Homo sapiens: one gene and its partners. The protein of the gene in region 4 purifies or fractionates together with the protein of the main gene of each other region. This does not show direct contact. Each region holds a gene or a part of one and is shown on either strand. Other genes may lie near its edges.

Region 1 (3,500 bases), on a different chromosome or scaffold from region 4:
GGACATCCACACCAAAAACCCATCTGTACATCACCATCATCAAAGACTAAAAGTAGATAAAACCACCAAGATGGGGAAAAAACAGAGCAGAAAAACTGGAAACTCTAAAGAGCAGAGTGCCTCTCCTCCTCCAAAGGAACGCAGTTCCTCACAAGCAACGGAACAAAGCCGGACGGAGAATGACTTTGACGAGTTGAGAGAAGAAGGCTTCAGATGATCAAACTACTTCAAGCTACAGGAGGAAATTCAAACCAAAGGCAAAGAAGGTGAAAACTTTGAAAAAATTTTAGACAAATGTATAACTAGAATAACCAATACAGAGAAGTGCTTAGAGTAGCTGATGGAGCTGAAAACCAAGGCTCGAGAACTATGTGAAGAATGCAGAAGCCTCAGGAGCTGATGCGATCAACTGGAAGAAAGGGTATCAGTGATGGAAGATGAAATGAATGAAATGAAGCAAGAAAGGAGGTTTAGAGAAAAAAGAATAAAAAGAAACAAACAAAGCCTCCAAGAAATATGGGACTATGTGAAGAGACCAAATCTACGTCTGATTGGTGTATCTGAAAGTGACGGGGAAAATGGAACCAAGTTAGAAAACACTCTGCAAGACATTTTCCAGGAGAACTTTCCCAATCTAGCAAGGCAGGCCAACATTCAGATTCAGGAAATACAGAGAATGCCACAAACATACTCCTTGAGAAGAGCAACTCCAAGACATACAATTGTCAGATTCACCAAAGTTGAAATGAAGGAAAAAATGTTAAGGGCAGCCAGAGAGAAAGGTCGGGTTACCCACAAAGGGAAGCCCATCAGACTAACAGCGGATCTCTTGGCAGAAACTCTACAAGCCAGAAGAGAGTGGGGGCCAATATTCAACATTCTTAAACAAAAGAATTTTCAAACCAGAATTTCATATCCAGCCAAACTAAGCTTCATACGTGAAGGAGAAATAAAATACTTCACAGACAAGCAAATGCTGAGAGATTTTGTCACCACCAGGCCTGCCCTAAAAGAGCTCCTGAAGGAAGCACTAAACATGGAAAGGAACAACCGGTACCAGCCACTGCAAAATCATGCCAAATTGTAAAGACCATCGAGGCTACGAAGAAACTGCATCAACTAACCAGCAAAATAACCAGCTAACATCATAATGATAGGATCAAACTCACACATAACAATATTAACTTTACATGTAAATGGACTAAATGCTCCAATTAAAAGACACGGACTGGCAAATTGGATAAAGAGTCAAGACCCATCAGTGTGCTGTATTCAGGAAACCCATCTCATGTGCAGAGACACACATAGGCTCAAAATAAAAGGATGGAGGAAGATCTACCGAGCAAATGGAAAACAAAAAAAGGTAGGGGTTGCAATCCTAGTCTCTGATAAAACAGACTTTAAACCAACAAAGATCAAAAGAGACAAAGAAGGCCATTACATAATGGTAAAAGGATCAATTCAACAAGAAGAGCTAACTATCCTAAATATATATGCACCCAATACAGGAGCACCCAGATTCATAAAGCAAGTCCTGAGTGACCTACAAAGAGACTTAGACTCCCACACAATAATAATGGGAGACTTCAACACCCTACTGTCAACATTAGATAGATCAACAAGACAGAAAATTAACAAGGATACCCAGGAATTGAACTCAGCTCTGCACCAAGCAGACCTAATAGACATCTACAGAACTCTCCAGCCCAAATCAACAGAATGTACATTTTTTTCAGCACCACACCACACCTATTCCAAAACTGACCACATACTTGGAAGTAAAGCTCTCCTCAGCAAATGTAAAAGAATAGAAATTATAACAAACTGTCCCTCAGACCACAGTGCAATCAAACTAGAACTCAGGGTTAAGAAACTCACTCAAAACCACTCAACTACATGGAAACTAAACAACCTGCTCCTGAATGACTACTGGGTGCATAACGAAATGAAGGCAGAAATAAAGATGTTCTTTGAAACCAGTGAGAACAAAGACACAACATACCAGAATCTCTGGGACACATTCAAAGCAGTGTGTAGAGGGAAATTTATAGCACTAAATGCCCACAAGAGAAAGCAGGAAAGATCCAAAATTGACACCCTAACATCACAATTAAAAGAACTAGAAAAGCAAGAGCAAATGCATTCAAAAGCTAGCAGAAGGCAAGAAATAACTAAAATCAGAGCAGAACTGAAGGAAATAGAGACACAAAAAACCCTTCAAAAAATTAATGAATCCAGGAGCTGGTTTTTTGAAAGGATCAACAAAATTGATAGATCACTAGCAAGACTAATACAGAAGAAAACAGAGAAGACTCTGATAGACTCAATAAAAAATGATAAAGGAGATATCACCACCGATCCCACAGAAATACAAACTACCATCAGAGAATACTACAAACACCTCTATGCAAATAAACTAGAAAATCTAGAAGAAATGGATAAATTCCTCGACACATACACCCTCCCAAGACTAAACAAGGAAGAAGCTGAATCTCTGAACAGACCAATAACAGGCTCTGAAATTATGGCAACAATCAATAGCTTACCAACCAAAAAGAGTCCAGGACCAGATGGATTCACAGCCGAATTCTACCAGAGGTACAAGGAGGAACTGGTACCATTCCTTCTGAAACTATTCCAATCAATAGAAAAAGAGGGAATCCTCCCTAACTCATTTTATGAGGCCAGCATCATCCTGATACCAAAGCCTGGCAGAGACACAACAAAAAAAGAGAATTTTAGACCAATATCCTTGATGAACATTGATGCAAAAATCCTCAATAAAATACTGGCAAAGCAAATCCAGCAGCACATGAAAAAGCTTATCCACCATGATCAAGTGGGCTTCATCCCTGGTATGCAAGGCTGGTTCAATATACGCAAATCAATAAATGTAATCCAGCATATAAACAGAACCAAAGACAAAAACCACATGATTATCTCAATAGATGCAGAAAAGGCCTTGGACAAAATTCAACAACCCTTCATGCTAAAAACTCTCAATAAATTAGGTATTGATGGGACGTATCTCAAAATAATAAGAGCTATTTATGACAAACCCACAGCCAATATCATACTGAATGGACAAAAACTGGAAGCATTGCCTTTGAAAATTGGCACAAGACAGGGATGCCCTCTCTCACCACTCCTATTCAACATAGTGTTGGAAGTTCTGGCCAGGGCAATCAGGCAGGAGAAGGAAATAAAGGGTATTCAATTAGGAAAAGAGGAAGTCAAATTGTCCCTGTTTGCAGATGACATGATTGTATATCTAGAAAACCCCATCGTCTCAGCCCAAAATCTCCTTAAGCTGATAAGCAACTTCAGCAAAGTCTCAGGATACAAAATCAATGTACAAAAATCACAAGCATTCTTATACACCAATAACAGACAAACAGAGAACCAAATCATGAGTGAACTCCCATTCACAATTGCTTCAAAGAGAATAAAATACCTAGGAATCCACTTTACAAGGGACGTGAAGGACCTCTTCAAGGAGA
Region 2 (3,500 bases), on a different chromosome or scaffold from region 4:
CAGCCTATGTCATGTTTCAAAAGGATCTCTTCAGTAGAAGAAGATCAATAAAATGACCAGCGTGTTCTTCTTATACCTTTAAGGTTATGTTTTTAAATACTTTAATCTGGCTGGGTGCAGTGGCTCACACCTATAATCCCAGCACTATGGGAGGGTGGGGCGGGCGGATTGCTTGAGGTCAGGAGTTTGAGACCAGCCTGGCCAACGTGGAGAAACCCCGTCTCTACTAAAAATACAAAAAATTAGCCGGATGTGATGGCACACCCCTGTAATCCTAGCTACTCAGGAGGCTGAGACAGGAGAATCGCTTGAACCCAGGCGGCAGAGGTTGCAGTGAGCCAAGATTGCACCACTGCACTCCAGCCTGGGTCCATCTCAAAAAAAAAATAAAAATGCAAGTATGAAAAATGAAGAGTTATCCTAGCAGTTGTAAGATTAGTGGGAAGTATAACATTTATAACAACAAAAAGGATAAACTGAGAAATAAGTTAGAATGGCCGCAGAGGGCCTGGGTTCTAGATGGGGGTGGGGTAGCTGCTCTGTTGAGGGGCGTGCATGTAGGGTCCAGCCCCACAGGGTCAGTGGGTTTTCTCCCTGTGTGCGGAGACGAGAGAGTGTAGAAATAAAGACACAAGACAAAGAGATAAAAGACAGCTGGGCCGGGGGGACCACTACCACCAAGACGTGGAGACAGGTAGTGGCCCCGAATGTCAGGCTGTGCTGTTATTTATTGGATACAAAGCAAAAGGGGCAGGGTAAAGAGTGTGAGTCATCTCCAATGATAAGTAAGGTCACGTGGGTCACGTGCCCACTGGACAGGGGGCCCTCCCCTGCCTGGCAGCTGAGGTAGAGAGAGAGGGAGAGAGAGAGACAGCTTATGCCGTTATTTCTGCATATCAGAGACTTTTAGTACTTTCACTAATTTTGCTACTGTTATCTAAAAGGCAGAGCCACGTGTACAGGATGGAACATGAAAGCAGACTAGGAGTGTGACCACTGAAGCACAGCATCACAGGTTGATGGTTAGGCCTCCGGATAACTGTGCGCGGGCCTGACTGACGTCAGGCCCTCCACAAGAGGTGGAGGAGTAGAGTCTTCTCTAAACTCTGCTAAGTAGTGGGTGTTTTTCCTTGACACTGATGCTACCGCTAGACCATGGTCTGCTTGGCAATGGGCGTCTTCCCAGATGCTGGCGTTACCGCTAGACCCAGGAGCCCTCTGGTGGCCCTGTCTGGGCATAACAGAAGGCTCGCACTTGTCTTCTGGTCACTTCTCACTGTGTCCCCTCAGCTCCTATCTCTGTATGGCCTGGTTTTTCCTAGGTTATGATTGTAGAGTGAGGATTATTATAATATTGGAATAAAAAGTAATTGCTGCAAACTAATGATTAATGATATTCATATATAATCATATCTAAGATCTATATCTGGTATAACTATTCTTATTTTATATACTTTATTATACTGGAACAGTTCGCGTCCTCAGTCTCTTGCCTCGGCACCTGGGTGGCTTGCCGCCCACACGTGCAAGCAGATGTGGGCAGGCGGAGGAAATTATGGATTTAAGGTGGTTATAGTTCAACAGAATGTTCTTCCTTTTTGAAGAAATTTTTTTTTGTTTTGGAGACAGGGTCTCACTCTGTCACCCAGGCTGGAGTGCAGTGGCATGATCTCGGCTTATTACGACCTCCACCTCCTGGGTTCAAGTGATTCTCCTGCCTCATCCTCCCAAGTAGCTGAGATTACAGGTGTGTGCCACCATGCCTGGCTCATTTTTTTGTATTTTTAGTAGAGACGGGGGTTTCAACATGTTGGCCAGCCTGGTCTTGAACTCCTTACCTCAAATGATCTGCCCGCCTCAGCCTCCCAAAGTGCTGGGATTACAGGTGTGAACCACCACGCCCGGCCTTGAAGAAAATTTCTATGTTTATCCAAAAAAATAAAATAAACTGGAGAGTAGCCAGGAAAGTTCTGTTGAGGAAGTCTGTGGGTGGCAAGCCACTCAGGCACCGAGGCAAGAGACAGAGGACACGGGCTGTTCCAGTATAATAAAATATAAAACAAGAATAGTTACACCAGATATAGATCTTAGATATGATTATATATGAATATCATTAATCATTAGTTTGTAGCAATTACTTTTTATTCCAATATTATGATAATCCTCGCTCTATAATCATAGCCTAGGAAAAACCAGGCCATACAGAGATAGGAGCTGAGGGGACATAGTGAGGTGTGACCAGAAGGCAAGAGTGCAAGCCTTCTGTTATGCCCAGACAGGGCCACCAGAGGGCTCCTTGGTCTAGCGGTGAAGCCAGTGTCTGGGAAGACGGGAAGACGCCCGTTACCAGGCGGATCGTGGTCCAGCGGTAGCAAAAGGTGTCAAGGAACAACACCCACTACTTAGCAGACCGGGAACCGGGGGGCGGGGGGGCGGGGGTGGGGGTTGGTGTCTCCCTTTCCCCGGGGGAGTTTAGAGAAGACTCTGCTCCTCCACCTCTTGTGGAGGGCCTGACTGATGTCAGGCCTGCCCGCAGTTATCCGGAGGCCTAACCATCTCCCTGTGATGCTGTGCTTCAGTGGTCACACTCCTAGTCTGCCTTCATGTTCCATCCTGTATACCTGGCTCTGCCTTCTAGACAGCAGTAGTAAATTAGTGAAAGTACTAATAGTCCCTGATATGCAGAAATAATGGCGTAAGCTGTCTTTGTGTCTCCTCTCCCTCTCTGCCTTGGTTGCCAGGCAGGGAAGGGCCCCCGTCCAGTGGACACGTGACCCACGTGACCTTACCTATCATTGGAGGTGACTCACATTCTTTACCCTGCCCCTTCTGCCTTGTATCCAATAAATAACAGCGCAGCCCGACATTCAGGGCCACTACCGGTCTCCGCGCATTGGTGGTAGTGGTCCCCCAGGCCCAGCTGCCTTTTCTCTTGTCTCTTTGTCTTGTGTCTTTATTTCTACACTCTCGTCGCCGCACACAGGGGGAGACCCACTGACCCTGTGGGGCTGGTCCCTACAGAAGTCTGATGAGGAGGTACTTGCTGGGATGTGTTTTAAACGTGTTGAGGTCACAGTCACTGAAGAGTGTGCTTTAGACCAGAGGTGGTCATGCTGGTCACTAGAGTGGGGCCTTGCGGCAGTGAGACCACCACGGATCGGAGGCCTGGCCGCACCCTGTGTGGTGAGGGGCTGGGGAGGTGGTGCTCTCTGGTTGTCAGCGGAGGGAGTAGTGATCGGTGCCACCTTTCTGAATGGCAGTTTTAAGTATGCTGCTTGTGGATTTTAAATGTAATTTTTGTACTTTTGTTTTCTTCTCAGTCCAGTCAACCTGCAACCAAAACGAGACTTTTTAGCACGCTTGATCCTGAGCTCATGTTAAACCCAGAAAACTTACCAAGGGCCAGTACCCTGGCTATGACAAAAGAATATTCCTTCCTGCGCACCAGTGTCCCTCGGGGGCCTAAGGTGGGCAGCCTGGGGCTTCCGGCACATCCTAGG
Region 3 (3,500 bases), on a different chromosome or scaffold from region 4:
CTTATTCCTCCTTAATTTGAACTTACTAATTATATTTCAGTGCAAACACCTGACTACGTTGTTATTTCCCTAGTTATAATCACATCAAGCACTTGCATTTTGAAACACTACTTTTAAAATAAATAACTTTTTTGTTTCTACATTATACCATTAAATTACATTTAAGGGAATTATGTTGATTTTCAGAATGTGCATGAGTAGGTTTTATTTTCTAGATACTTCTTATCAGGAAGTATTTGTTAATAACAGGAGGCACTGGGTCTGATAGAATTAAAAATTAATTAGAAGCCATAGAAGAGGACTGAGCAAGTGTCTTGAGGAAACTGATGTGGCAGCAGTATGCAAGAGGACTTAAATGAGAGAGTTATTTTTTTTTTGTAAATAAATGACTAGGAAAATGAATGAACCACTAATAAGAAAAAAAACCAGAGTCCATTTTGTGAAGAAGATGTTAAGTATTACCTTAGATATATAGAATTTCCATTATTATCACCAAGCATTAATTGCATACATGCTGAATATAAAGTAGTGTGAGAAAGGGCCCTTATTCTAAAGCTGGGGAGATAAACCAGAGACTTCAAAGGAGAAAATATCAGTTACTCAACATCAAATGAGTGGAGCACTTTCTGAAACCAGGAGCCTCACTCCACCCCTCACTCCCATGCCTTGAGATTTGGACGTGCCTCCTGAACAATGAAATGAGGCAATGGCATATAATCAATACAAGCTCCTCGAATGATGCAACACACTTTGTGATATTCTGTGACAAGGTGAAGGCAGAGGGACTATGCCACCTGAATGGCTCTCACGATGATGAGTGTGAGCCAAGAGAAGGGCAAGGAACATGGAATGAGGGAGAAAGACCACTACTGATATTCCTACAAGCTTGGGCATCCTACTTACCTGGGACCTGACTGGGTTAAACACAGGCACTACAGCCTTGTCTCTGGGGTTTTTTTCCTGGAGATGAGCTGATCCGTGGGGAACAGGCCCTGCAGAGAGAGAGGGCAAGAGTCCTAAATGAGACATGATGGCCTTTAGGGTACCCTTTTTGGAGACCCAGCCTTTTCCCCCAAATGTTATGTTTGTTAAACATTCAAGAACTAAGACGTAGATTTTACAGTGTGAGAAAGAGCATCACAACTGCTTTCATTCTGTCAGAAATTCTAAAATTCTACAACTTTAGGGTCTCTCACCCAAAAAATGGAGTGGGATTTATGAACTCATAAGGTGCTTTACAGTCATGCACTTTCACATAAAGAAAAAATAAAAATCATAGACAAAAATAAAGGGGAGGAAGAAGCTGGTGATAAAGGAAGGATCAAGGAGAGAACACAGAGGCAAAAGAAAGGATGTAGAGAGTAGAGAGATGAGACTGAGGGGAAACAGGAAAGCAGAAGAAAGGAAGATGGAGAGAGAGACAGGAAAATAAAGATATTTAAAAAAATAGAGAAGAGATGTTAGCCATGAACTAGAAAAACTGTTAGGAGGTACTGATCCCAAAGAACCAACAATAATCAAAATGGTGATGATGACTGCACAAGGCCAGCCACTGTGCTGTTACTTTAAAAGATTATTTCCAATCCTCAAAATAATCAAGAAGGTCCAAATTATTGCCTCCAAAATCCTAGGCACATTCAGAAGAATCACAGCTGAGTGCAGAGTACACACAGAGATCAAACAGATAATTGTTGATTAACTGAATAACCTATTAAATGACTTGCCTAGGTCACAAAGTTGGCAGTTGGCAGATGGCAGAGTACAAAATTATCAAATGAAGAGCACATGTGGTAATTCTAACCCAAAAATATAAAACAGAACATCACTTTTCTTTGCTCTGCTTTTCTTTGCTTCCATAATGGATCACTATGGAATGTTTTTATTGCTGTTGTTGCATTTCTAGAAGGAATAAAGTTTGCTGGAAAAAAACAGCCTTGCCCCGATTCACTTTTACTATTATATGTACTTGTCCACAACACATACATACTAAATAAACCAGCTTAAAATGCACAGTGTAAAATAAAGCAGGTCTTTACAAGTTTGTTCAGATACAGGGTTAGACAAAAAAATAAAACTTGATGTTGGTCACAGGGTATAAACTTGCAGTTATAAGATGAATAAGCTCTGAAGACCTACGTACAGAATGCTGACTATAGTTAGTAATAATAATATATTGTATACTTGAAATTTCATGAGAGTAGATCTTAGGAATTCTTACCACAGACACATAAAAGGTAACTGTGAGATATGTAAGTTAGCTTGTGGTAATCATTTCACAATGTATACAAACTTGAGGTCAAGAAGGCTGTGCAAGTGTCAGTGGCCAGCTCCCAGCGTCCTCACTAAACTCACTCGAGCACTCACCACTCACTTCTTGGGGGTTCCCTTGAGGACGCTGTGGAGGTTCACACTTCAGGGTGGTTATCCCAGGCAGGAGCTGGAGGCTCTGACACTCCAAAGAGACTCCTTGATATTCTGCCACCATTGGGTGCATGTCCTGTCCCTGAATATAGACAGAGGCCTGGAAACAAAAGATTTATTTTGAAAGGGCATGCATATATGGACTGCATGCTAAGAGCCTGGCACTGTTCTACATGCTGGGGATACAGCAGCAAACAAGGCAGAAAAGACAGGCAAAGGATCCCAGCCCAGAAAAACAAAAACAACAAACAAGTGGATGTTTAAACTAGCTGGTGAAAATTTAATGAGGAACAGGATATGTACACCACCTCAAAATGTCTCCCACAGATTACTTAGTAATTACAAAGGGGAAAATGGTAACTTTCTAGTGGAGAAAATTGACAGGTACCACCATAACCTCATCAGTAATGGGACAAATCATCACTACGCACCTCCTGAAGTAACGCACTGAGAACACAACATTACCTCTGTGGTATTCTAGCCAAAATGTGCAGCCTGAATCATGAGAAAATATAGGACAAACTCAAATTGAGGGATAGTCTCCAAAAAAACTAGCTGTACTCTTCAAAAATAACAACGTCATGACAAAGACAGCAGCTACTCCAGATTCACAGACTAGAGATATGGCAACTAAGTGCAATATGTGATGCTGGCTTGTATCCTGAATCACAGGAAAATTATCATAAAGAACATTATTAGGATAACATGGCAAAATATGAATAAGGACTAAGGTTATATGATAGTATCGTAAGTTTAATTTCCCTAAACTTGATTTTTGTATTCTTGTGATACAAGAGAATATCCTCACTCTTCAGAAATACACACCGAATAGCCAGGTGCAGTGGCTCATGCCTGTAATCCCAACACTTTGGGAGGCCAAGGCAGCATGATCACTTGAGGCCAGGAGTTCAAGATCAGCCTGGGCAATATAGTGAGACCCCACCCCCGCTACAAAAAATTAAAAATAAATTAGCCAGGCATGGTGGCATGCACCTGTAGTCCCATCTACTCAGGAGCCTGAGGTGGGAGGATTGCTTGAGCCTTCCACCATTGCAGTTCAAGGCTGCAATGATGCTATG
Region 4 (4,107 bases):
GATAGGGCCCCGGGAATGTCTTGGTTTCTGTGCCTGACCCAAGTGTGTCGATAGCTCCTCTGATGCCCCCTGAGAGTCAGGGGAACTAAGCATGCCCCTCTCTCCACACATACATGCCACCCACTCTTCTCTCCACGCAGCCCCTCTGCTGCCCTTGATTAGTCACAGACGCCAAGGTGGGTGAAGTAGGGAAGAGCCTGACTGTCCACAATGGCCCCCAGTAGCCAGGTACCAGGAAGAGGCGTAAAAGGGAGTCCCGCCTTTACTCCTATAGATGGTGGCTCCTCTGGTTACGATTTCAGAATTCAACATGTTTTACAATCAAAACTAGCATTTGATAAGAAATAAAAATCAATAACCCAGCCAAACACACCATCCACATACTCCCAACGTGAGAGCAGGAAGAATCTTGTGCCTTAACTCCCTTCCTGCCATCAGCTCCCTCCCTCCCTCCCTCCCTCCTCCGTCTCTAGCCCAGCAATCCCTCTACTCCAGTTTTGCCCAGCTATTGGGAATCTTGGACAGCTTCCTTAGGCCCCTGTGCATCCAGGTAGGGTTGGGGCAGCAGAAAGCGAAGACCCACTCAAGACAGACCTTGTCAGTGCGTGCTTGACTCCTGGTCTTTTCTGATGCTTTGTTTGACTCAACATACCTCCTCCAACAACCTGATTTGCATTGATAAGTGTCACTGTGTTTTCCTTTGACACGACTCCGTTGCAGTTTGCCGAGCCCTTGATGGTACCAGGCTCTGGGCACGTAGCACCCACATCCTCACTGGAAACCCAGAGAGCTAAAGCTCCTCATCCAGGGCCACACAACAAGCAGGGCTGGAGCCTGGACACCAAGCCAAGCCCCTCTGTTTCGAATTCTTGCTCTTCAACCACAGCTCAGTCTCCTCCCAGGAAGTGGTGATCCCCGCTTTGGGCGGGACACGGTTAGGTGCATCAGAGGTCATAGGTCGCAGGTGGGATGTGAAGTCTGTGAAGTCGCCCACTTCCTCTGGGCTTGTGGGCAAGGACAGTGCAGCCTTGGGGGACGGGAGTTAGGAGCCCCAGCTTGTAACAGTGACCCGAGCTGTGGCACAGGTCCCCTGGCTCCATCTAATGCTCTGTTGTCACTGTCCTGAAATGATCAACGATCTTTGAACAAGGGGATTTGCATTTCCATTTTGTACAGGGGCCCCTCGAATTCTGTCTCAGGTCCTGTTAAGAGCTCTTTAGGAGTGGTTATTTATTTTTTGTATAAGCAGAGTCTTGCTGTGTTGCCCAGGCTGGTCCCAAACTCCTGGCCTCAAGCAATCCTCCAGCATCAGCATCCCAAAGCACGGGAACAACAGGCGCGACACCGCGCACTGCCCTGGGACAGAGCCTTTGGGGATGACGCCCGTTCCTTGGTTGTTCGGTGGTGGTGGGGAGGATGGCTCCTGAGGGGCAGCTGCCGAACAGTCCTGTGCTTGCCATTCTAGGCGTCTGAGCTGATTCTGGATGCAGTGGCAGCAGCCCCAGCACTCCCCGAGGAAAGTGAGTGGCTGGAGACTACCCAGCTCCAGCAGAGTCTGCACACCAGGGCGGAGGCCGAAGCGCCCCGCGCCCCTGGCTTGCTGGGTGAGTCTGGCTCCTGTGTGGATTAAGGGTTGGAAATGGAGTTTGGGACTTCAACCCAAAGCCACAGACTTTGTTAATGGGTTGAGTTGGGTGCTTCGGTGGTGAACTCCACACTTCCCCCAGAAAGCATGCACACCTCCTGTGAGGACTGAGATCTGGGGCCCCTAGAACCACCATGTACATCGTTCACCCTACGAGAAGGGCCTCAGCCTCCGCACCTGAACGGCAGCCAAGGCAGACAGTCTGAGAGTGTTGGAGCACGGGGTTACCCAGAGGGCCAGCCAGGTAGGAACAAGGGCCAGTGCTGTGGGATCTGCTCCCAAAACATGTGCCTTTTTTTTTTTTTTTCGAGACAGAGTCTTGCTCTGTTGCCCAGGCTGGAGTGCAGTGGTGTGATCTTGGCTCATTGCAACCTCCGCCTCCTGGGTTCAAGCGATTCTCCTGCCTCACCCTCCTGAGTAGCTGGGATTACAGGCGCACACCACCACGCCCAGCTAATTTTTGTATTTTAGTAGAGACGGGGTTTCACCATGTTGGTCAGGCTGGTGTCTAACTCCTCACCTCATGATCCACCTTCCTCGGCCTCCCAAAGTGCTGGGATTACAGGCATGAGCCACTGCACCGGCCACATGTGCCCTTGTATCTTAAAGGACAGAACGGAGGACACAGGGGCCGTATTGAGCAGAGGAAGGGCCTGGACTTGGCTCAGTCACTGGGGTCCTCCGTGCCCCTGGGGAGCACAGGGAGATGCCAAGGCCATCCACTCACTACAGGTGACCCATCTCCCTCGCCCTCCACAGGGTCCCGGGCCCGCTTGCCTCTGAAGCCGAGTATCTGGGACGAGCCTGAGGACCTTCTCGCAGGGCCCTCCTCAGACCTGCGGGCAGAAGGGACTGTGATCTCGAGCCCCAAGGGTCCAAGTGCTCAGAGAATCAGTCCCCGAAGGAGAAACAGGAACACTGACCAGAGCGGCCGCCACCAGCCATCCCTCAAGCACACCAAAGGTGGTACCCAAGAGGCTGTTGCAGGCATCTCGGTAGTGCCGCGTGGGCCCCGAGGTGGGCGGCCCTTCCAGTGTGCCGACTGTGGGATGGTCTTCACCTGGGTCACCCACTTCATCGAGCACCAGAAGACCCATCGCGAGGAAGGGCCCTTTCCGTGCCCCGAGTGTGGCAAGGTCTTCCTGCACAACTCCGTCCTCACTGAGCATGGCAAGATCCACCTGCTGGAGCCACCGAGGAAGAAAGCCCCCCGGAGCAAGGGCCCCCGGGAGTCCGTCCCACCCAGGGATGGAGCCCAGGGCCCAGTGGCCCCTCGCAGCCCCAAAAGACCCTTCCAGTGTAGCGTCTGCGGGAAGGCCTTCCCCTGGATGGTCCACCTCATTGACCACCAGAAGCTCCACACGGCCCACGGCCACATGTGAATGGCCAGCCTCGGGCCTCGGCCACCCGGCCCTGAGTCCCTGGGGGGAGCTGATGGGCCCCAGAAGATGGGGGACATCCCCCAGCCCCACCAACCCCTGGCCACCTTGGGACTCCTCTTGAAGGACACAAGCTGTTTCTCGGAAGACCCTGGACACCTGCTCCGAAGCCAAGCACGGGATGGGGCTTCCCAGGGTCTCAGCTGAGAAGCAGCAGTTCCACAGCACAGCCTGGTCAGTCCTGCGCACTATAGTTTTGCAAGTGGCTTGAAGAGGAGTTTCATTCGCGTCCCATCTTTCAGAAGCCTTGTCCAGGTCTCCCTGTTAGCACCTGACTCAGCGGCAGCTTCTGCCGCTGGGTTTTCATTTCACTGTGGATATCCCTGAGGCCATGAGGGTGGGAGCCGGCCTGGGCAGCTCCAACTCCAGAGAAGGGTACAGCTGACCCCGGCTGCCCTCCTGCCAGCTTAGCCCCCTTGGAACCTAACAGATAAACAGGGTTTTGTTTTTTTCCTTTTTTGGGTAAAGTACATGCAACATAAAATTTACCATTTCAGTCATTAAAAATGAACAGTTCAGTGGCATTAAGCACATTCACAACACTGTGCAACTACCAGCACTCTCTAGCTCCAAAGATGTTTTCGTCTTGCCCAGAAAGAGAGCCCACAGTCCTCAGCACGCCTTCGCCATTCCTGCCCGCCCTGACAACCAGAATCTGCTTCCTGTCTCTGAGGATTTCAGGCGCAGTCTTTAGGCCTGACCAAAACTGACCTGCCTGTATTTTGTTTGACTTACAGAAGGATTTTTTTTTTAGATAGATGCCAACATTTGTTTAAACCATAAAAATCTGGCTTTCTGGTCTGCCAGGAAGGATCAGATGGTCTCCAAAGAGTGGGCCCGCCTCTCCTGCTAGGCTGGAGCAGAGTGTGGGCAGGCGGTGACGTCACAGCGGGGAGCCAGCCTCGGACTCGGCTTCTCACCCGTCCCCAACTCATTGTTGTCGGACACTCGTCCCCTTTCAAGCAAAAGCCTTAAAAGTTTTTGCCTTTTTCTTTTTCTCCTCCCGACTTCACTTGGAAACAC
Region 5 (2,638 bases), on a different chromosome or scaffold from region 4:
GGTCGCCTCCTTCCCCTTGCAGGTTTTGGGCTCAAAGGCCAAAGTGAGAAGTCCCTGCTGCAGGAGATGGTGCCGGTGGTGCCAGGCCAGACAGGCAGCGACGTGACTGTGTCCTGGAGCCCCGAGGAGGCTGAGGCCTGGGAGAGCGAGAACCGGCCGAGGGCGGCCCTGGGCCCAGTGGTGGGCGCGCGACGGGGGCGGCCACCCACTCGCCGGCGCCAGTTCCGGGACCTGGCAGCCGAGAAGCCGCACAGCTGCGGGCAGTGTGGAAAGCGCTTCCGCTGGGGCTCGGACCTGGCGCGGCACCAGCGCACGCACACGGGCGAGAAGCCACACAAGTGCCCTGAGTGCGACAAGAGCTTCCGCAGCTCCTCGGACCTGGTGCGCCACCAAGGCGTGCACACGGGCGAGAAGCCCTTCTCCTGTTCCGAGTGCGGCAAGAGCTTCAGCCGCAGCGCCTACCTGGCCGACCACCAGCGCATACACACGGGCGAGAAGCCTTTCGGCTGCAGCGACTGCGGCAAGAGCTTCTCGCTGCGCTCCTACCTGCTGGACCATCGGCGTGTGCACACCGGTGAGCGGCCCTTCGGCTGCGGAGAGTGCGACAAGAGCTTCAAGCAGCGCGCGCACCTCATCGCGCATCAGAGCCTGCACGCCAAGATGGCCCAGCCCGTGGGGTGAGCAGCTGGCTTGGCCGGAAACCCGGGGGAGGCCCAGCCACGGCACATCCTGCTTTGTTCACCACTGGGACTCTCCTTCCATCTGTGGCCACCTCCCGGGCTGTCCGAGGGACCCCAGGGTACCTCACACTCGGAGCTCGCCTGCCCTGCTTGGCTCTGAGGACCTGCCCAGCGCTCAAAGGGAACGGAAGCCTTCCCCTCCCGCCCCCGATCTTGTCCTCTTTCCCCCTTCTGCGCCTAGCGTTCCTCTTCCCCTCTAGTTTCCTGGAGCCCCAACACATTCCTGGCAGGGACAGCAGGGTGGCAAGGACTCAGGTCTAGGTCCCTTCCCAGAAGCCCCCGAGCCTCATTTGACTGTGTGGCTCTTTGGCCCCCACCCTGTGGGGTGGGTCCATGGGTCAGGCCTCTGCCCTACCAACCTGTGCCTTTCAGTGGGCGTGGAGGACTGGCCTTGGCCCCCCAGGGGGCTGCTGGACTTTGGGAGAGACAGCCCACACCTGTGGGACCGCGGGTCTTAGTCACGGCGGCAGGGGCTTTCTGGCCCCCTCCCACTCCCGTTTCCAGGCCATGACCACTCTGCCCTGTCCTGGCCATACGGACTCGGCCTGCCTTTGCCCTCGGCCTACTTGCCCTAGCATGAGGCTCTGAGAGCCACCTGCCCACCAATCTGGTGAGGATAATGGTGGCTCCAGCGACAGGAGGCCAACCCTGGAGACCAAGAACAGGGCGCCTGGCTGCCATCTTTTCCTCCAGAGGTGGGGCTGCACCAGACTCAGCACTAGCACTCCATCAGCACTAGCACCTCACTCCATCAGCACTAGCACCTCACTCCATCGGCCCCGGCACCCTGCTCCATCGGCACTGGCGCCCTGCTCCATCGGCACTAATGCTCCACTCGGCGCCCCACTCCATCGGCCCCGCTCCATCGGCACTAATGCCCCACTCGGCGCCCCACTCCATCAGCACTAATGCTCCACTCCATTGGCACTAACGCCCCAACTCCAGCGGCACTAATGACCCGCTCCTTTGACATTGGTGCCCCACTCCATCAGCACTAACGCCCTGCTCCATCGGCACTGGTGTCCCACTCCATTGTCACTAACGTCCGGCTCCATCGGCACTACCACCCCGCTCCATCATCACTATGTCCAGCTCCGTCGGCACTACCACCCTGCTCCATCATCACTACGTCCAGCTCCAACGGCACTGGTGCCCCATTCCATCGGCACTAACGCCCCGCTCCACCGGCACCAGTGCCTCGCTCCATTGGCACCAACGCCCAGCTCCACCGGTACTGGCTCCCTGCTCCATCGGCACTAACGCCCTGCTTCATTGGCACTTTGCTGCTGCCTCCTGAGCACTGCCTTCCATGAACAGGGACAGACCAGAGGCCCTGCAAGGACTCCCCCTCAGACCTCCAAAGGGCAACAGAAGAGTATTAATAAACGTGAAAACTTACCTCCAGGCTGTTCTGTTCTTTCGGTAGCTGGAGGGTGGGGATACCTGGAATATATGCCCCTTGCCCTGGCCTTGTGTCCTGGTGGCACATGCTGCTGCACCGTGACCAGGCGGAGCTGCGTCCTTGGCGTCCAGGTCGGCTGGGCCCCAATGGGCAGCCGTGTCCCCTGGGACTCTTGTCCCCCTGTGTCAGCTAGTGCCTGCCCTGCTCTGGGAGCACCGTCGGTGCTCCAGCAGAACGGGGAGCTGAGCAGGACTCAGGGTCTTCACCAGGCCACTCCTCTCCCACAACTGTGAAAGGAAGAAGGGCCCATAGACGCTGCTTGGTCAGTGGTGGGACCCTCTTGCTGCGTGTTGGGGATCTGGAACTCAAGGCTGCCCCAGGCTGAGTCCCTTGGAGGAGGGGCTGACAGCGGGCTTGCCCTTCCCACCAGCCCCTGACATCCAACTTCTCCCTACCAGGAGCCCCAGGCCGGGACCCACCAAGGGCTGGTGGGTGC
Region 6 (3,500 bases), 510 kb from region 4:
TCACTCCTCAGATCGCTGGGGAGCAGAAGCGCATGCGCAAAGCCACCTTCGCGGGAGGGTGATTGGATCTGGCCAGAAAGGCCAGCCATGCCGAGGTCCCAGGGGACGTGGAGGTGAGGGCTTACACTACCTGGACCTGCGGAGATGCTGCCTAGCTGCAGCGCGAACCCTGCATACACAAGGGGACCATTCATTCATGACAGAATGCCCACCGTGCCGGGACCCACTTCATCCCTGGGGACACAGTGTGAACTACAGGGACCTGAAACTGACCAAAGAGGCAGACGGAGGCGACAAATGCAGGGGTAGGGATTCTATCTGTACAGACTTCCCTGATGAGGTGATAATGAGACAGAACCCAGCACAAGGAGGAAGACTGGGCTATGTGAAAAAGCTTTCTAGGTCTGATTTAGGTTGGAAAAAATCGTTTTTGGAAGGGCTGTAGGGCAAGCGTGGGGGCATTGTCTAGGTGGAAAATGATGGTCTCAGCAAATGCAGGGAAGTGGGTGGGTCTCGGAGGCTGGAGGTGGAGCCAACAGAAAGAGGGTGCAGGCTCCTGGATAGTGGTCTGGGGTTTGGATGTGCCTTGCTTGTGATGTCTGTGGGGCATCTGAGGAACACAGACTTCATGAAGGCTGTGGGGAAACGTGAGCAAGGGCTCTAGGGCATACACATGGCACACAGAACCCGGGCCTGCAAGTGATCAACACAGGGGTGGGTATCTACAGAGGAGAGAAGTGGGTCCCAGCCACACTGTGAGCACTCCAGCGTCAGACGCTGGGTGAAGGAGGAGGCACCAGCAACTCCAACTGAGAATCAGGGCCTGGAGAAGGCGGAAGCCTGGAGGAGGTTAAATCAAGAAGACTGAGAGAGCAGTGAGGGCTTTTAGTGGTGAGAGAAAGTCCATAAGTCGCCAAAGAAAAGTCAGATAAACTAGAATACATCAAAGGAAATCAGCAAAAACCACATCAGAGTCAAAAGACAAATGGCCAAAAAACAAAAAAAATTAAAAAAGGACAAATGGCAAACCAAAAAACTCTCCACAGGCAAAAGGCTAATTAACCTCCTAAGTAAAGAGCTACAATAAATCAGTAAGAAAGATCAATAACCTCATAGACACATGGGCAAAGGATGTGAACAGGACAGGAAATGTAGCTAATGCTTATATCCCATAAAATACACTCCATCTCCTCCTAGTAAGAAAAATGCACCTTAGGGCTGAACTCATCTGCCATTTCCACACCCTGACTGCAGGGACCCAAGTGTTCCTATGTATTGCTGGTAAGCATAAATGGGAAGACAGTGTGGTAAAATCCATCAAAACAGCAAATGTCCCACACTTTGTTCAAGTAATTCAATTTTTAGGTACTTCTTCAACAGTTGTGTTCCTCCTTGTACTAAGTGACCTACATACAAGGTTTTCAATGGTGTGTCCACAGTGAGCCACAGTGGGGTTCTGTGTAGCTACCCAAAGATGTAGAGCACTTGCTGCTGTGTACTTAAGTTGGAAGATGCACAAAAAATGCCAGATGTGGAACAGGGTGGAGAATAAGCATCCATGTGTGTGTTTTTTTTTTTTTTTTTTTTTTTTTTTTTTTTTTTTGAGACTGAGTCTTGCTGTGTCGCCCAGGCTGGAGTGCAGTGGTGTGATCTCGGCTCACCGCAACCTCTGCCTCCCGGGTTCAAGCGATTCTGCTGCTTCATCTTCCTGAGTAGCTGGGATTATAGGCGTGCACCACCATGCCTGGCTAATTGTTTGTATTTTTTTTTTTTTTGAGACGTAGTTTTGCTCTTGTTGCCCAGGTTGGAGTGCAATGGCGTGTTCTCTGCTCACTGCAAACCTCCATCTCCTGGGTTCAAGCGGTTCTTCTGCCTCAGTCTCCCGAGTAGCTGGGATTACAGGCATGCACCACCACACCCGGCTAATTTTGTATTTTTAGTAGAGACAGGGTTTCTCCATGTTGGTCAGGCTGGTCTCGAACTCCCGACCTCAGGTGATCTGCCCACTTCAGCCTCCCAAAGTGCTGGGATTGCAGGCGTGAGCCACCGCACCTAGCCAATTTTTTGTATTTTTAGTAGAGACATGGTTTCACCATGTTGGCCAGGCTGGTCTCGATCTCCTGACCTCATATGATCCACCCGCCTCGCCTTCCCAAAGTGCTGGGATTACAGGTGTGAGCCACCACGCCCAGCCCGTGTGTGTGTGTGCGCACTTGAGACGGAGTCTCGCTCTGTTGCCCAGGCTGGAGTGTAGTGGCGCCATCTCAGCTCACTGCAAGCTCCGCCTCCCGGGTTCACGCCATTCTCCTGCCTCAGCCACCCGAGTAGATGGGACTACAGGCGCCCGCCACCACGCCTGACTAATATTTTGTATTTTTAGTAGAGACGGGGTTTCGCCGTGTTAGCCAGGATGGTCTCGATCTCCTGACCTCGTGATCCGCCCGCCTTGGCCTCCCAAAGTGCTGGGATTACAGGCGTGACGTGCCGCGCCGGGCCCATGTGTGTTTTAAAGGAGAGGAATGGGGCTGGGCACGGTGGCTCACGCCTGTAATCCCAGCACTTTGGGAGGCCGAGGCGGGTGGATCACGAGGTCAGGAGATCGAGACCATCCTGGCTAACACGGCGAAACCCCGTCTCTACTAAAAATACAAAATATTTAGCCAGGCGTGGTGGCCGGCGCCTGTAGTCCCAGCTACTCGGGAGGCTGAGGCAGGAGAATGTCGTGAACCCGGGAGGCGGAGCTTGCAGTGAGTCGAGATTGTGCCACTGCACTCCAGCCTGGGCGACAGAGTGAGACTCCGTCTCAAAAAAAAAAAAAGAAGAGGAATGGGCCAGGCATGGTGGCTCACGCCTGTGATCCCGGCACTTTGGCAGGCAAAGGTGGGCGGATCACCTGAGGTCGGGAGTTCCAGACCAGCCTGACCAACATGGGGAAACCCCGTCTCTACTAAAAAAATACAAAATTAGCTGGGCGTGGTGGAGCATGACTGTAATCTCAGCTACTTGGGAGGCTGAGGCAGGAGAATGGCTTGAACCGGGAGGTGGAGGTTGCAGTGAGCCGAGATCGCGCCATTGCACTCCAGCCTGGGCAACAAGAGCGAAATTCCATCTCAAAAGAAAAAAAAAAGGGAATGAACATGTGTCTGGGAATGTCTTTGCTTCTGTATGTACAGAATCTTTTTACAAAGACACATAAGAAACAAGCAGTGTTGGCTGCTGGAGAGTAAGACTGTGTGGCCCAGGCAGGGAAGGGGCATTCCACTGTATACTGTCTTGTGCCTTTTGAATTTCCTAACATATGAATGTATTAGCTATTCAGAATAGTCTCCTGATGAAGACATAAAAAGACCTCTCTGAGCCAGGTGTGGTGACTTGAGCCTGTAATTGCAGCTACTTGGAAAGCTGAAGCAGGAGGATCACTTGAGGTCAGGAGTTCAAGACCAGCCTGGGCAAAACAGCAAAACCCTGTCCTTTAAATAAATAAAGCAAGACTCCATTTC
Region 7 (3,500 bases), on a different chromosome or scaffold from region 4:
AGACACAGTAGTGGAAGAGAAGGGACCTAGCAGTGAGAAACCCGTTTTGAGTGCTGCACTGGCTGCTCAATTGCTGTGTGATCATGGGAAAATCAATTAACCTCTCTGAGCCTTACATTCACCACCTTCAAAATGGATTGTACACTCATGAAGTTTACTGCACACATGGAGCAGGAATGCAATGGTTCATGATATTATTTTAACTCCCAGACCATGTACCTGACTTGCAGCTACTTCCAGGGACCATCCACTTAGATCTCAAAGTCAACAAATGGAACTTTCCATTCTTCCTCCCTCTTAGGAAAATGCTTCCCTCTCTTTCTGACAGTAGTAACATAATTTTTCCAGGCCCTTAGCCAGGATCCTAAGACGTAGACTCCTCTCTGACTCTTCTCTTTCCTCCCCTCTGGCCAATCTGTGGCCCATCCTTGGAAGCATATTTCAGTAAACCCCCTTCTACATGACCACTGGCCTGGTTCCTGCTCTTACCCCAGTGCCTACACTATTTCAACCCTCCAGACTGGCCGTACCCTGCCGTCAATCCAATTTTCCTCAAGTAAAACCTCCATCACATTACTCTGCGCAGAAAAAATTTTTAAACAAGGACCCAGAGTCCTCACGGACTCCTCAGCGGCCTCACTCTACTCACTCCTGCCTCCTCCTTACTCCTCTGAGCACTCATCTTTCACTCCAGGACCCTCACCATCCTGGGAACCAGCCTGCAGAGTCCTGCATTCAGGTTTCTGCACCTGCTACTTTTTGCCTCTGTGATTCCAAATCCTGTTGTGAGTTCTTGCTCCAGTCCTTGTGGACATTACTGCAATTACAACCCAGACAACAAGGTCTGCACCTCACCGTCTGCTAATGAGAACAGACGAACAACTGGAAGTGATCTGGGCAGCCACCTAGCTCAACCCTGCCCTGTGCATTCAGTCTCTTTACAGGTGAAGCAGCTCAGGCCCAGCCCCAAGCAGCTGTCAGTACAAGCACCAGGACAACCCGAGTGTGAATCCCAGGAAGACCTGAAAGCTGGGACAGCAAGTGAATGGTACACTTGGGAAACAGGCCTTCGTGTCACCTGGCGGCAGAAATGTTCAGGTATGGGCTTGAGTTGCTCTGAGTTCTGAGACACTGAGCTGGTGAGGGGACAAGGACAGAACCAGTCTCCAGAACAGTCAGAAATGGCCAGGAGAGCATGAAAATCTTCTGAGAATGGGGGCGAGGGGCTCCTCACCCCACACAGCAGCATCACTGGGAGGGGAATATCCCTGAGGGGGACCCTGGCACCAGGACACTGGCACCTTTGTCTGGGGCTCATCACTCGAGCCCCTGCTTTGTTCTGTCATCCTCTGCCGTTACAGCAATCACACATCTCCACATAAAGTATGCTGACATCTTTCTGCCACTTGCATCACTGCCACACTGTGTCAACCGTGCCCTGGACCCAGGTCTCCCAGGAGACCAGTGCCCCTTACCGTATCCCACTATTACATGCACATGGCCTCTTCCCCTGAACTCTAAGACCCCACAGGCAAGCGCCTTTATTTTTAACTCTTCATAGTGACCAGAACAGCAATGGCCACAGAGCCAAGTCCACCTCTGTGGTGAATAAATGAGTGAAGGCTGAGGGCTCCTACAAGAATCCCTTAGTAATACTTACAGCACTAACTAAACAATCTAACACTACCATGGTCACCACACATTTAGATATGTCACCTCCCTTCATCCTCATGGCACCATGAGGACAGGTTCCATGAACAGCCCCATTCCACAACAGAGGAAACTGAGACCTGGAAAGCTCAAGGGAGATGCTCAAGGTCAGGGTCAGCAAGTGGAGGGGCAGGATGGATTCTCTTACGTCCTGAAGGAAGCACAGGGATAATCTTGCTCTTCCTTCAAGGCATTTCAGGATAAGGAAAGGCTAGGTGGGGTCGGTACAGATGGGTGGTCAGTGTACAACTCACAAAGAAGTTATGAAACAAAAAAGAAGAAAATCAAAGAACAAGGACAGGCCGCTCCAGCCACAGTGTTTCCTCTCCCCGCCGGCATCCTGATTCCACGCATGCAGACTCTCCATACTGTCCCTTGCCCTGGCAGCCCCAAAGCCCCGCAGTGCGCTCTGCTGGCAGCCCCTGTGGGCTCTCTCTCGCTGCTCCTCCTCCCATGAGCTGCTGTCACACACAATGGCCGCATCCCCCCAGGCTCTGAGCCCAGGTCAAACCCAGCCACCACCTGAGTCCCAGCGCAGCTCTGCTTCCTCTGTGACTCGGGCCACTCCAACCTCTCCCATCGCGAAGCCCCCTCGTGCCCTCCTACGTGCACACCGTGAGCTCCAACGCTTTCGTGCACGTTAGTCCTGCCCACTTCCTGCCGCAAGAGAAAACCACTAACACAGGGCCCACATGCAGGGAGCACTCAATAAATATCTGAACAAGCTCAGATGCCCCATCTTTTGCTGTTCGTATCTTGTTCTCAAGCCCTCAGTGTCTTTAATCATGGACACAATGTAGGTGTTTGGGGGTCCTCATGACCGACCTGTCTCCATACAGCCAGAATAATGGCCTCATGTTTTCCTGCTCCATCATTTGGCTCCTCTATTGACACAGGAAAGCAGCTCCTCGTGCCCCATGGTCCGTGCTGGACCCATTTACCCGCCTGCCATGAAGTCCCCTTCCTTTGCCAGGAGCGCCAGAGCTACGGCAGGACCCCTGACCTGAGCTTTCAGAACTCCCCAGTTCCTCACCTGTGGGTGGAGACAGTCTTACCTGGAGAGACCCTGCAGTCCTGCGGTTCCACATACTCCCCAAAGCAGTCTATCTGGGCTGGGGTCACATGCCTCCACTCCTCCTCAGGGAAGGCCAGGGCCATATCTTTAAATGGCCCCAACCCCTGCAACAATAGGAGATTGCTATGAATAAAGAAAGAATCCTAGGCCAGAGACAGTGGCTCATGTCTGTAATCCAACTTCCTCCCAACCAGCTTCCTCCCAACAGTTGAATGGGAGTAATCCACTTGTTTGAGCCACTGCAGTTGTGAGCCTCTGTGGCTGGGGCTCAGCTTGCCCCTAACAACTAAGTCACCTCATTTCCACTCTGCAGCAGCCTCCCACTCACACCTCATGCTTGACAGAGCCTGGCAGCCGCTATTTACCTTCTCATCAAGAACAAAGTTCACATTCGGCCAAGCCCTGTCTTAAGAACAAGGCTGTGATAAAATAAATGCATCCTCAATTTCTCACTCACTGCACCACGAAGAACTATTATGGTACAAGGGAGGATCCAACCAAATTAAAAAGCACTGATGTCATTCCTCATCCCCTCCAAAGTACATCCTTGGAGAACAGGAAAAGGGAAATGATGCTGGCATCCAGCCTTGCCCAAATACGGCTTGAGCAGGACCAGACTTGATCCCCTTCTTTTTTCTGCCAAACACCTTTTCTTCTTCAAAGAACTCTTTTAGACTCGCCTCCTTGAGGAAGGTGCCCCACTGGAAAGCCCCCA

What was found.
Region 1: the proteins of ZSCAN1 (region 4) and ZNF215 purify together in Homo sapiens (affinity purification with mass spectrometry; one large-scale study listed by BioGRID and IntAct). This does not show direct contact.
Region 2: the proteins of ZSCAN1 (region 4) and GOLGA3 purify together in Homo sapiens (affinity purification with mass spectrometry; 2 studies listed by BioGRID and IntAct, with this or other methods). This does not show direct contact.
Region 3: the proteins of ZSCAN1 (region 4) and PGBD1 purify together in Homo sapiens (affinity purification with mass spectrometry; 3 studies listed by BioGRID and IntAct, with this or other methods). This does not show direct contact.
Region 5: the proteins of ZSCAN1 (region 4) and ZNF213 purify together in Homo sapiens (affinity purification with mass spectrometry; 3 studies listed by BioGRID and IntAct, with this or other methods). This does not show direct contact.
Region 6: the proteins of ZSCAN1 (region 4) and MZF1 purify together in Homo sapiens (affinity purification with mass spectrometry; 3 studies listed by BioGRID and IntAct, with this or other methods). This does not show direct contact.
Region 7: the proteins of ZSCAN1 (region 4) and ZSCAN25 purify together in Homo sapiens (affinity purification with mass spectrometry; 3 studies listed by BioGRID and IntAct, with this or other methods). This does not show direct contact.

Annotation. Positions count from the first base shown.
Region 1 is NC_000011.10:6,950,426-6,953,925, reverse strand, and holds part of ZNF215 (zinc finger protein 215), read right to left. Parts: intron 1-3,500. UniProt on the Homo sapiens protein: May be involved in transcriptional regulation.
Region 2 is NC_000012.12:132,808,370-132,811,869, reverse strand, and holds part of GOLGA3 (golgin subfamily A member 3), read left to right. Parts: exon of another isoform or gene 1-83; intron 84-3,320; coding exon 3,321-3,500. UniProt on the Homo sapiens protein: Golgi auto-antigen; probably involved in maintaining Golgi structure.
Region 3 is NC_000006.12:28,284,572-28,288,071, reverse strand, and holds part of PGBD1 (piggyBac transposable element-derived protein 1), read right to left. Parts: intron 2,522-3,500; coding exon 2,365-2,521; intron 993-2,364; coding exon 904-992; intron 1-903.
Region 4 is NC_000019.10:58,051,025-58,055,131, forward strand, and holds the end of ZSCAN1 (zinc finger and SCAN domain-containing protein 1), read left to right. Parts: intron 1-1,465; coding exon 1,466-1,604; intron 1,605-2,404; coding exon 2,405-3,027; 3' UTR 3,028-3,607; downstream 3,608-4,107. UniProt on the Homo sapiens protein: May be involved in transcriptional regulation.
Region 5 is NC_000016.10:3,140,667-3,143,304, forward strand, and holds the end of ZNF213 (zinc finger protein 213), read left to right. Parts: coding exon of another isoform or gene 1-22; coding exon 23-681; 3' UTR 682-2,138; downstream 2,139-2,638. UniProt on the Homo sapiens protein: May be involved in transcriptional regulation.
Region 6 is NC_000019.10:58,563,336-58,566,835, forward strand, and holds part of MZF1 (myeloid zinc finger 1), read right to left. Parts: intron 170-3,500; coding exon 1-169. UniProt on the Homo sapiens protein: Binds to target promoter DNA and functions as a transcription regulator. Regulates transcription from the PADI1 and CDH2 promoter. May be one regulator of transcriptional events during hemopoietic development.
Region 7 is NC_000007.14:99,623,446-99,626,945, reverse strand, and holds part of ZSCAN25 (zinc finger and SCAN domain-containing protein 25), read right to left. Parts: intron 2,890-3,500; coding exon 2,766-2,889; intron 1-2,765. UniProt on the Homo sapiens protein: May be involved in transcriptional regulation.